Linked DNA regions of Homo sapiens. The protein of the gene in region 3 purifies or fractionates together with the protein of the main gene of each other region. This does not show direct contact. Each region holds a gene or a part of one and is shown on either strand. Other genes may lie near its edges. The genes, in order: BHMT, ATP1A2 and ZNRF1.

Region 1 (3,649 bases), on a different chromosome or scaffold from region 3:
TGGCTCACACCTGTAATCCCAGCACTTTGTGAGGCTGAGCTGGGCGGATCACAAGGTCAGGAGATGGAGACCATCCTGGCCAACATGGTGAAACCCTGTCTCCACTAAAAACACAAAAATTAGCCTGTCGTGGTGGTGTGCGCCTATAGTCCCAGCTACTCAGGAGGCTGAGGCAGGAGAATCACTTGAACCCAGGAAGCAGAGGCTGTGGTGAGCTGAGATCGTGCCACTGCACTCCAGCCTGGGCAACAGAGCAAGAGTCTGTGTCTCAGAAAAAAAAAAAAAAAAAAAGAGATGGACAGCCAAATGTGCACAAATTACACTTCAATTATACCAGACTCTTCAAAGCACTTTCACAGAAAGCACTTCCTGCCTGCTAGTAATCATTCTCACTCAAAGGTAAGAGGTTTGTGGGGAATGAGGACCTAATGCTATGCTTCCAGTTCATCATTCCAATTAAAAGCTTCCTGCTGGGTGTGGTGGCTCATGCCTGTAATCCCAGCAGTCTGGGAAGCTGTTGGATCACTTGAGCTCAGGAGTTCGAGACCAGCCTGGGCAACATGGCGAAACCCCATATCTATAAAAAAACAAACAAACAAACAAAAATTAGCCAGACGTGGTGGCACACACTTGTAGTCACAGCAACTTGGGAGGCTGAGGTGGGAGGATTGCTTGATCACTTGAGGTGGAGACTGCAGTGAGCTGAGATCACGCTACTGCACTCCAGCCTGGGCAACAGAGTGAGATTGTGTCTCAAAAAATGAAAAAAGAACTTCCTGATTCCTGATGAAGAGAGGAGAGCTGGCCCTGCTGGTTTCTGGTGCATCCCTAAGTCTATCATGTTCTTCCCACTCACAGGAGCATCCATCATTGGTGTGAACTGCCACTTTGACCCCACCATTAGTTTAAAAACAGTGAAGCTCATGAAGGAGGGCTTGGAGGCTGCCCGACTGAAAGCTCACCTGATGAGCCAGCCCTTGGCTTACCACACTCCTGACTGCAACAAGCAGGGATTCATCGATCTCCCAGAATTCCCATTTGGTAAGACCAACATTTGATGAATCATCTCAATATCTTCATTTGATATGCATATAAACTCAAGTAAATCTATACCCAGAGATCTTTTGTCATAGTGAAGAGATGGCTTGGTGTCTCCTCATGTCTTGTCCCTGGTTTCTGTCCCTGCAGCCAAAAGCCCCTTCGTATTAGAGAAGAGCAGAAGGAAAGGATGGTCCCAGCTAGCAAAAAAGATCTCTGAATTTAAATATAAAATCTAAGGTGAATCAGCATCTAAACAGACAACTAGTGAGTCATACTTTGGGGTTGGTGAGGATGCCCTTCATGGGAGAATCAACAGATATTTAGTTCTAGTTCCAGCTCTGTTGCTAAGTCCTGTCACCTTAGGAAAATCTTTAAATTCCTCTAGCTCTCAAATTCTTTATTGGGAAAATAAGATCAGACCAGTTATCTCTAAGGTCCTTTTCTCCAATTTTTAATATGGCTCAGCTACTCCAGAGTTTTGGGATTGCAGGCAAGATACCATCATCGAGTGACTGTATAACAAGTTTTAATGAAGAGACCAAGCAGATGAAGTGAGGGGATACTTGCAGTCCAGGCAGAAGGAAAAACTTTCCCAGCATGATTGGGAAGAGCGGGTGGGTTGATCTCACAAATTAAGCCAGAGTGGTCAGCAGGGGCAGAGCATGCCCAGCCTCCTATTTCCTTCTAAGGTCTTTACACCCTATCCTATATTTTATAGGGACCCTTAGACAAGTAAGATATTATAAAATACAATCACTCTGGAGGAGCCACAGAGGAAGAAAGGCAAGGCATTTGTGTTACTTACTGCTGTATAACACATTAAATTAATGCAAAATGTAGTGGCTTGAAAAACCACTTCTTATCTCACAGTTTCTCCAGGTCAAGAATTCAGGGATAGCATAACTAGGTGGTTTTGGTTCAGGGTCTCCTAAGAGGTTGGAGTCCGGATATTTGCCAGGGCTATTATCACCTGAAGGCCTGTTGGGAGCTGGGGGATCTACTTCCTAGCTCACTTAATTGGTTTTTGGGAGTTAGTGTCAGTTTCTTGCTGTCTGTTGACTGGGGGCCTCAGTTCCTCAGCTCATGGGCCTTTTCACTGTGATGCTAGAAAACATGCTTGAAACATGTGATGCTTGCAACATGGCAGCTGGCTTTCCCCAGGGTGAGTGCTCCAAGAAAGTGCAAGGCAGAAACCATGATGTTTTGTATAGCCTAGACTCTGAAGTCACATGCCAGTTCTGCCATATTCTATGGATCTCACAGACCAGCCCTGTTATAATGCAAGAGGGGACTGCACAAGAAGAAAAACATCAAAGGGCAGGGGTCATTTGGAACCTCCTGAAGGCTGGATACCACAGCATGTAAAAGTGAACATACAACACAAAGTAGCAAAGTTTTTTCTTAAATGTAAAAATTGAATATTGAAAACAATTCATTTATTGAAAATTACATACTTGTAGCTACTTATCTTGAATTTTTATGAAAAGAATGTATAATGCCTAATGGCATAATGCCACTTATTACAGGACTGGAACCCAGAGTTGCCACCAGATGGGATATTCAAAAATACGCCAGAGAGGCCTACAACCTGGGGGTCAGGTACATTGGCGGGTGCTGTGGATTTGAGCCCTACCACATCAGGGCAATTGCAGAGGAGCTGGCCCCAGAAAGGGGCTTTTTGCCACCAGCTTCAGAAAAACATGGCAGCTGGGGAAGTGGTTTGGACATGCACACCAAACCCTGGGTTAGAGCAAGGTAAGCATCTTTTTACTAACCCAAACTAATTTAGATTATGAATATGTTCAAGTGAGGCCATTTAGAAGACTGCAGCAAATTTGTTGTGTGATGATGAAGAATCAGTCATCCCCAAATTCTCTCCCAGAGATGTTTACAAAGCATCCTTATTAGGTGATTTCTGGAGATTGTTTTAAGAATATAGAACGTATTTGACCTGATTTTGGATTTTGAAAAGAAAAAGAAAAATTTTTTTAAAAATTGTTTTTAAATATAGGCTGGGTGCGGTGGCTCGCGCCTGTAATCCCAGCACTTTGGGAGGCCAAGGTAGGAGGATTACTTGATCTCGGGAGTTTGAGACCAGCATGGGCAAGATGGCAAAACTCCATCTCTACTAAAAATACAAAAAAAAAAAAAATTAGCTGGGCATAGTGGTGCATGCCTGTAATCACAGCTACTTGGGAGGCTGAGGCACAAGAATTGCTTGAACCCGGGAGGCAGAGGTTGCAGTGAGCCAAGATCACGCCACTGCACTCCAGTTTGGGCAACAGAGTGAGACCCTGTTTTAAAAAAAAAAAAAAAAAAGAATATAGCATGTAAATAAACGTAAGTGGCAATGAAATGTGATTTTGTGCTCTAGTAAAGCACCATTAGTGTGGTGCACAATACTCTTAAATTGCATTGATTTTTAAGAGTTAAGGACCACTTAAGTATAGCTAATACTGATTGTTCTATATCAAGCATGATTTTCAGAGCTGGGAATACGGTGGCAAATAAGACAGGCAAGGTCTTTGCCCTCAGAGTTTACATTCCAATGGGGAAGATGAATAATACACTAGTAAAAAAAAATGTATGTCAGGCACTGGGAAGGGCA
Region 2 (3,649 bases), on a different chromosome or scaffold from region 3:
TGCTTGGACCCCTGCCATTAAGTGATGGCAGCTCTGGGAGTTCTTATTGACCTTTGTTTATCTCTAGAACCCAGAACAGGGATGGGGCAAACTGGGTAGTCTGTGCATGGTGAAACATGTCTTTTGATGTAACAAAGGTTAGAAGCAGCCTGAAGTAGGCCCCAAGTGTTCACCTGGCCAGAATGCCTTCTTGGCCCTCCCAGACCCTGGGGCCCTGGCCAAAGCAAAGGTTATCGAAGGGGGCAGCGAGGCCCAGAACCACAAGGAATAGAAGCATCAATCAAATCCAAAGACTCCTAAGAATCCAGGTTGGTTCTGAGCGTATGTGCATCTGTGTGTGCGCATGCGTAAGGGGTTCTTAACCCAATACCTGAAAGCTTTGAAATCCACTCAGTCTTGGGGTGGACAGAACAGAGATCTCCCTGGGGAAGGGAGATACATTTCCCATGGAGTCAGGCTGCCCTCAGTCAATACCCTGCTCTGTGGAGGGTGTTTCCATAATATTCAGGGCCCCCTGACCCCTCAATTGCCCCACCAATGGCAGAGCTTTTGCCAGGTAAGTACTACCAGAGCCCTTCATCCTGACTATGGATTCAGGATTCAGACTCTTTCCTACAGGGGGCAGCCTGGCTTCTCACCTTCAACACAGTTGGTGGAGAAGAAACAGATATTGCGGGTCTCCAGGGGGTTCTCATGGGTGAACTCGGGGGAGCGGGTCTGGGGCTCCGACTCTCCTGTTAAGGATGAGTTATCCACCTGAGGAGGAAGGAGTGCATAGTCATCAGACTGGCAGAGCCACTTGTATGCACACAGCTGTCTCCTGAACCACCTCCAACCACACTCAATCTTCATGACACGAGGAACAAAGTCACACTTGCCCTCATCACATATTTATGGCATTACTCATCTATTGCCCCTGCCCTGGTTTGGAATTCTGACTCCTCCTGACTTCTTATGTGACCTCGGGTTACTTGCTTAACCAAGAGAGCCTCCATGTACTCAACTGTAAAATGGTGAATGTAAACAGAATCTCTGCCTTGCACAACCACAGGGGGAGACACTAACACTGTAGTTATGAAAATGCACCTCCTGGGGTCATTCAGGATGCAACGTGTGTGGCCACATTCAGCAGCCCTGCATGATTACACCACTCTTTCAGAATTACATCAGATAGCACATCGAACATATATAAAGCAGCTGACACATAATTGGTATTCAATACATGATTGCTAAAAAGTGGACAACAAAGAAATACCTGGGGCATAGAGCATTCATAACACACAGATGCAAGGAGGCACTGCACAAGCACCCCACACTGAGAGAAGGTTTAGCAGGGGCATAGGCATGGTGTTGACATTTGGACCTGGGTCTCTCCACCTTTAAACCTCACTGGGCCCCTCTCAGCTCTGCACACAGCCTTCTCCTTAGACTCAACTGCTTGCTCTGGTATGACCTCCTCACCTTACAGCCATGAGAAGAGATGATCCGGAGGTCAGCAGGGACGCGGTCTCCACCCTTCACCTCCACCAGGTCTCCCACCACCACTTCCTCTGCGTTGATCTGCATCTTCTCTCCCTCCCGGATCACAAGGGCTTGCTGTGGGGAGCCACAGGCAGCTCATGAAATGCTTGTCTCTGCCCCTGCCTTCTTCTCCTGCTGGTCTCCCACACCGTCAAGCAGAAGGAGAAGCCCCATAAACAATTAGGTGCTGGCATGGAAAGCTGGAGGATCTTTTCTGTCCATCTCTATCTTAGAGCCTGGGAGCTGACAAAAGATGAGCTGGACTCTTGCCAAAACCTTACAGCCTAGCCCAGAGCCCAGCCCTGCCATCTTACCTGAGGTACCATGTTCTTGAAGGAATCCATGATCTTGGAGCTCTTGGCCTCCTGGTAGTAGGAGAAGCAGCCAGTGACAATGACCACAGCTGCCAGCACCACACCCAGATATAGCTGGTAAGGAGAAAGAGTTTCAGGGACCTGACCTTCCCCCCAACCCTAAAGGGGCAGCTGCCACTTGGGATGAGCAGGCAGTGCCATCCAAGATGACAGCCCAGACCTTTGTCTGTGACTGAGAGTGATGATGGTAGGGGAAAGCCCTTCTCACTAACCTCCCCCTTGATCTGCCAACCTCAAGCCTGTTAAGACTAGAAATGGGAGGGAAAGTCTTAGGAAGTTCCCAGGGTTAGGACTTTGCTAGGGGATGAAGACCCAGGCACACAGACAGGCTCACTTAAGCGGGGAGGAACAGGGAGAGATTGTTTCATTAATTAATGAGTATGTGAATGTGTATGCACTGTTGGCGGAGGAGTACTTTACAGATATATATAGAAGCCTCTCCCCTTTCCAGCCTAAGATGCAGGGGCATCTGTAGGACTGTTATGTGAGGGCCTTGTTCCCTGCCCACCCCCCACTGTGTTGGGGGTTCAGGGTTGGAGGACAGTCACGGGCTGTTCCCGGGTCGGGCGTGTGGGCTCACATTGTCGTTGGATGGTTCATCCTCCATGGCAGCCTGGATGCCGTAGGCCAGGAAGCAGAGGATAGCCCCAATCCACAGCAGGATGGAGAACCCCCCGAAAAGCTGACGGCAGAACTTGACCCACTCAGGGGTTGTGGGAGGTGGTGTGAGGGCGTTGGGCCCATCTCGAGCCAGAACGTCCTGAGCCCGCTGGTTGGTGAGGCCCTGAGGGAGCAAGGAGAGGCGTAGGGGCACGCATCCGGAGCCAACCCAGCCAGTCACCATGCCCATCCCTTCAGCTCCCGGGCATGGGAAGAATGCCCAGAAGGAAAGTCCCACCTGGTTGGAAGGGGTGGGGGACCATCAGGAGAGACCACATGGAGGAGGTGGCATTTGTGATGCAACTTGGAGGGCTTGAGGGCTGAGAAGGGTTTGACTGGGCTTGACCCCTAATTATATTGGATTGAGACAACACCTATGGTTAGGGCCATAACATCTCCCCTGGAGGCAGTCTGGATAAGCTCCCTGGAAAGACACCTCAACTGTTTTTTCCCCATCTCTCTTCCTTCAGATTATTTTATCAAGGATTCTAGGAGAGTCCTAGATTTTTTTTTAAGAGATGGATTCTTGCTATGTTGCCCAGGCTGGAGCGCAGTGGTGCAATTATAGCTCACTGCATCCTTGAACCCTGGGCTAAAGCAATCCTTCCACCTCAGCCTCCCAAGTAGCTGAGACTACAGGTGGGCACCTCCACACCCTGCTCAAGTCCTACATTATTGACCGTCAGTGTCACACAACTTTGGCAATCACCTGTCACTTTCCACAGAAAGCCTTGCCTGGCCCTATTCCCTCAGCCCCAGGCTGGTTCAGATGCTTCTTTCTGGTTCCCCATGGTGTTCTATACTTGATTCTAGAGCTGCACTCACCATATTGCATTGGAATCCTAGGATTGCATTTTTTCTGCTACTAGACTTTGAGCTCCTTTAAAGCAGGGACCGTTTCTTTTTTTTTTTTTTTCATTCATTCATTCATTTAATAAATGTATATCCAGTGCCAGGCACAATTGTCACTCTGCGGATGCAGAGATGGACAAGACCAACAAAGTCCCTGCCCTTGAGGAGCTTATGATCTGGAGAGGTGACACACAATAAACAAATACATATTAGTGCCAGATAGAAAAGTGTTACTAAGGAAA
Region 3 (3,649 bases):
GACCAGGAGTTCTAGTGAATCTTCATAAGAAAACTCTTCACTAAGAAAGCCCCGCCTCGCCCCCTTTCCAGAAAGATTCCAAGAACTCACACCTCTGACTCTTAAGTCTTTTTTTAAATTAGAAAAGGTAACATGCAGCAGGTGAGGTTGGGATGATGACAAATCATGGGGAATACATTGGAGCTCCTGAGCTTTGGCCCACGGTCTGTGCTCTCTCTGAGCTGGAGCAGGCCCTGGGCGTGCCTGGGGATGCCCACTCCACATACACCCCCGGAAGCAAATGCTCTCCTCTTACCTGGAAGGTTTAGGGTCTTCAGAAAAGACAAAGACTGAACATGAGGAGTCCATACCACATGAACAGGGTCCACAGAGGGCCGGACCATTGTTTCTGAACAAAGCACTTCACCACGTTGAGACAAAGTCCACTGGAAGGACTGGAGACAACTGGCCTCTCTTTGCCTCCAGTGGTAAAGGACTGGCTTTTGCAAAAGAGAGCCTTAGGTGTAAAGCCTCTAGTTTACACACACACACACACACACACACACACACACACACACACGTGCACACATACAGAAACACATGCACCCTTGAGGAGGTGGCCTGCCCCTCAATTCCATGACAAGGGAAAAACTAGAACCAGAACCAGAGGAGCAGTGGTCATGCCTCAGGCTGGCTGGCCAATCTCCCCTTCCTCTAAGGGGGGCCCGGCTCCCGGTGTGGTTTCTGTAGTCTTGGGTGAGGCTGCCGGTGGTGGGGTGTAGGGGGGTAAACCAACAGCGCCAGGCACTCAAGTGCTGATACAGAGGGGGACAGGGGGACACATGGTGGCGTCCCAGGCAGTTCTCTGGCAGAGGAGCTGGACAGCCTCACCTTCCCGGTTCTCCACAGGGCAGTGGGGGTAACTCTGCATTTGGGCCATGGGGGCCCAAGAGCACTCTGTCCTCCACGGCTGCTCTTGCAAAGTTCTTCCTGAGAGCCAGGTTTTCTCAGGCTGAGCCCCTCTGAGGCTTCTTTGTATTCTTCCTACAACAAACGCAGTGTCTACAGAGAACGCCCTAGCAACCCACAGGACAAACGGAGGACTTCATGAGGTCTCCACACATGTGGGAAAGAAGTGAATAGGGTTTTTGAGGCCATGGCTAGGGAGGGCTGTGAGACGCAGGGAAGGCTCCTCTCCCTCCCTGGTCCCAAGCGGAGACGGCGAACAGGGACAAAGCTGAGCCTGAGCGTCCTGACAGCATGCATGCGACAGGACTGACGCGAAGCCTGCAGCACATGTGACAACAGACTTAGAGAACTGGCAGCAGTCAGCCCAGGAGAAAGGAGGCGTTGTCCCCTGGGGAGGAAAGGGGCTTCCCAGACCACAGCTATGATGCCCAGGGGAGGGCCGTGCGGGTCCTCCCACCTGAGCATGGCCTAACAAATGCATGGAGCTGAGCCACGTGGGTAATATGCCCACCTGCATCCAGAGTCTTTTGGCTGAACAAGTAATTAAGAGAGAAGTTTTCAGGAGACCTGAGTGGACGCCATTAGTCAGTTACTTCCCAGGAAATGCTCTGAGACCATGATCCCTCCTAGGCTCATGCTTTGTAGGGGAAAGAGCCCTCTGGGAGTGAGGAGGCTGCAGGGCAGAGAAGAGTCTCCCTAGGAAACATTCTCGCTGGGCTGGTTGCGTGATCCAGTCCTCAGATGCTCTCAGAAATCCCAGAACTCTTTTTCCAACCACTACTATGACTTGAATCTGGGAAGGTGGGCCAGTACCAGGGTTGGAGTGCACTCAGATCCACTGCCTGGTCTAGTGGAAGATGCCGTTTTCTGATGAACATGGTTTGGAGACCAGACTAAACACTAAGCATGGAAAATCGAGGGTCAGCAGTGGCGTGGGCTGAGCAGCACTGAGGAGAAGTCTGTGGGCTCTGGAAAACTGCAAAAAGAAACCTATGAAGGTCTCACATCTTTCATGGCAGCTGTAACTTCCCAAGCACTGACCATGTGCCAGGCTCTGTACCAAAGGCCTTTATGTGCCATCTCTTACCCAGTTCTGACAATCCTATGAACCAAGTATTGCTATCCACATTTTACAGAGCAGAAAACTGAGGCTCCGCTAAGCTGAGCAACTTGTATAAGATTGTAGACACAGAGTGGTAGAGGGAGATTTGAACTCCCATCACCTGGACTCCAAAGCCTTATGCACAGCATGCTAGGCAGATGTTGACAGTCATTTTGTTTCCCAGAGGCGTCCTGTTAGGTTAGCTTGGGTGTTTTGAAATCCCCTGCCCTCAGGGTCCTACCCTCTGCGGTATTCACTGTTCGGCTCTGAGGCAGCCTCCAAGGTAGGAGGCAACATGGCCAGGGTGGAGCAGCAAGGTGTCCTATCCGCATTTTCAATCCCCAGAGCGTCTCTATGTCACACATAGTCCCCCGTCAAGCTCTCTGGTGTGGACTCATAGGACTAAATCAGGTGTTCGTCCGAGTTCGAACGTGACAAGGAGACGACCAGCTTCCCAGCACTCTATGCATGCCACCAGCACACAGCCCCCACCTCCCCAAGGAGGGCGGGTGCTTGCTCTGGGCCCCTCTGCTAAGCCGTGGAGGACACCTGGCTGTCTTGGGGCCTTCCACAGTCAAGGGTGAAGGAAAGGCTGCATCTCCCAGCCAAAGTCCTCAGAACTGAGTTGCAGAGAGGCAGGGGCCTAACTGAGCAGCCCGAGAGCCTTCCCAGACCTCGGACCTGACCCCTGGGCCTTCCTTCCTTGTCCCACTCCTCTTCCTCTCTGACCTGAGCAGCAAGGCTCCCAGAACAGTCCACTTCCTCACCACCACTGAGGCACACCTGCCAGAGGGCAGGGTGAAAATACTGCCCAGAACCACCCTCGACTGGAGGCTCCCACAAGGACTGGCCGGCTCCCCCGACGGATGCTCTGGAGGCTGGTGAGGCAGGCCAAGCCCTTACCGTTGTAGGAGAGGCGAGGTTTGCTCAAACACATTATAAAGTGCATTTCCATCTCGTCAGAAGCCACAGACTTGGAGCAAATGGGGCACTTGAAACCTGAAAGAGAGGAGAATGGGATGAAATGTTTTCTCCAGATCCAGTACATCCACAGTACATGTGGACACTCTCGAATGACAGCCATGTGGGCTCAGGGTCAATGTGGAGGATGACCATCAGAACAGACCCTGGACCTGTCCTCCTTCAAGGACTCATTTGAGCATCTGCCTTTTTTTTTTTTTTTTTTGAGACGAAGTCTCACTCTGTCGCCCAGGCTGGAGTGCAGTGGCACGATCTCAGTTCACTGCAACCTCTGCATCCCGGGTTCAAGCGATTCTCCTGCCTCAGCCTTCCAAGTAGCTGGGATTACAGGTGTCTGCCATGACGCCTGGCTAATTTTTGTATTTTTAGTAGAGAGGGGGTTTCACTATGGTGGCCAGGCTAGTCTTGAACTCCTGACATCAGGTGATTCACCCGCCTCGGCCTCCCAAAGTTCTGAGATTACAGGCATGAGCCACCGCGCCCGGTGGCATTTGCCTTTTATTGCAGCCTTTGACTGACTGCCAGCTTTCACTAGGGCTCACCCTGCCTTATGTGCCTCGTTAAGGTTTAACCAAGGTCACTGACACCTGACTTGAGTTTTATCTTCTTTAGACCCTT

The links.
Region 1: the proteins of ZNRF1 (region 3) and BHMT purify together in Homo sapiens (affinity purification with mass spectrometry, with the first as the bait; one large-scale study listed by BioGRID). This does not show direct contact.
Region 2: the proteins of ZNRF1 (region 3) and ATP1A2 purify together in Homo sapiens (affinity purification with western blotting; one study listed by BioGRID). This does not show direct contact.

Annotation. Positions count from the first base shown.
Region 1 is NC_000005.10:79,125,188-79,128,836, forward strand, and holds part of BHMT (betaine--homocysteine S-methyltransferase 1), read left to right. Parts: intron 1-858; coding exon 859-1,041; intron 1,042-2,567; coding exon 2,568-2,796; intron 2,797-3,649.
Region 2 is NC_000001.11:160,122,243-160,125,891, reverse strand, and holds part of ATP1A2 (sodium/potassium-transporting ATPase subunit alpha-2 precursor), read right to left. Parts: intron 2,680-3,649; coding exon 2,476-2,679; intron 1,950-2,475; coding exon 1,836-1,949; intron 1,597-1,835; coding exon 1,462-1,596; intron 757-1,461; coding exon 639-756; intron 1-638. UniProt on the Homo sapiens protein: This is the catalytic component of the active enzyme, which catalyzes the hydrolysis of ATP coupled with the exchange of sodium and potassium ions across the plasma membrane.
Region 3 is NC_000016.10:75,092,972-75,096,620, reverse strand, and holds part of ZNRF1 (E3 ubiquitin-protein ligase ZNRF1), read right to left. Parts: intron 3,050-3,649; coding exon 2,954-3,049; intron 1-2,953. UniProt on the Homo sapiens protein: E3 ubiquitin-protein ligase that plays a role in different processes including cell differentiation, receptor recycling or regulation of inflammation. Mediates the ubiquitination of AKT1 and GLUL, thereby playing a role in neuron cells differentiation.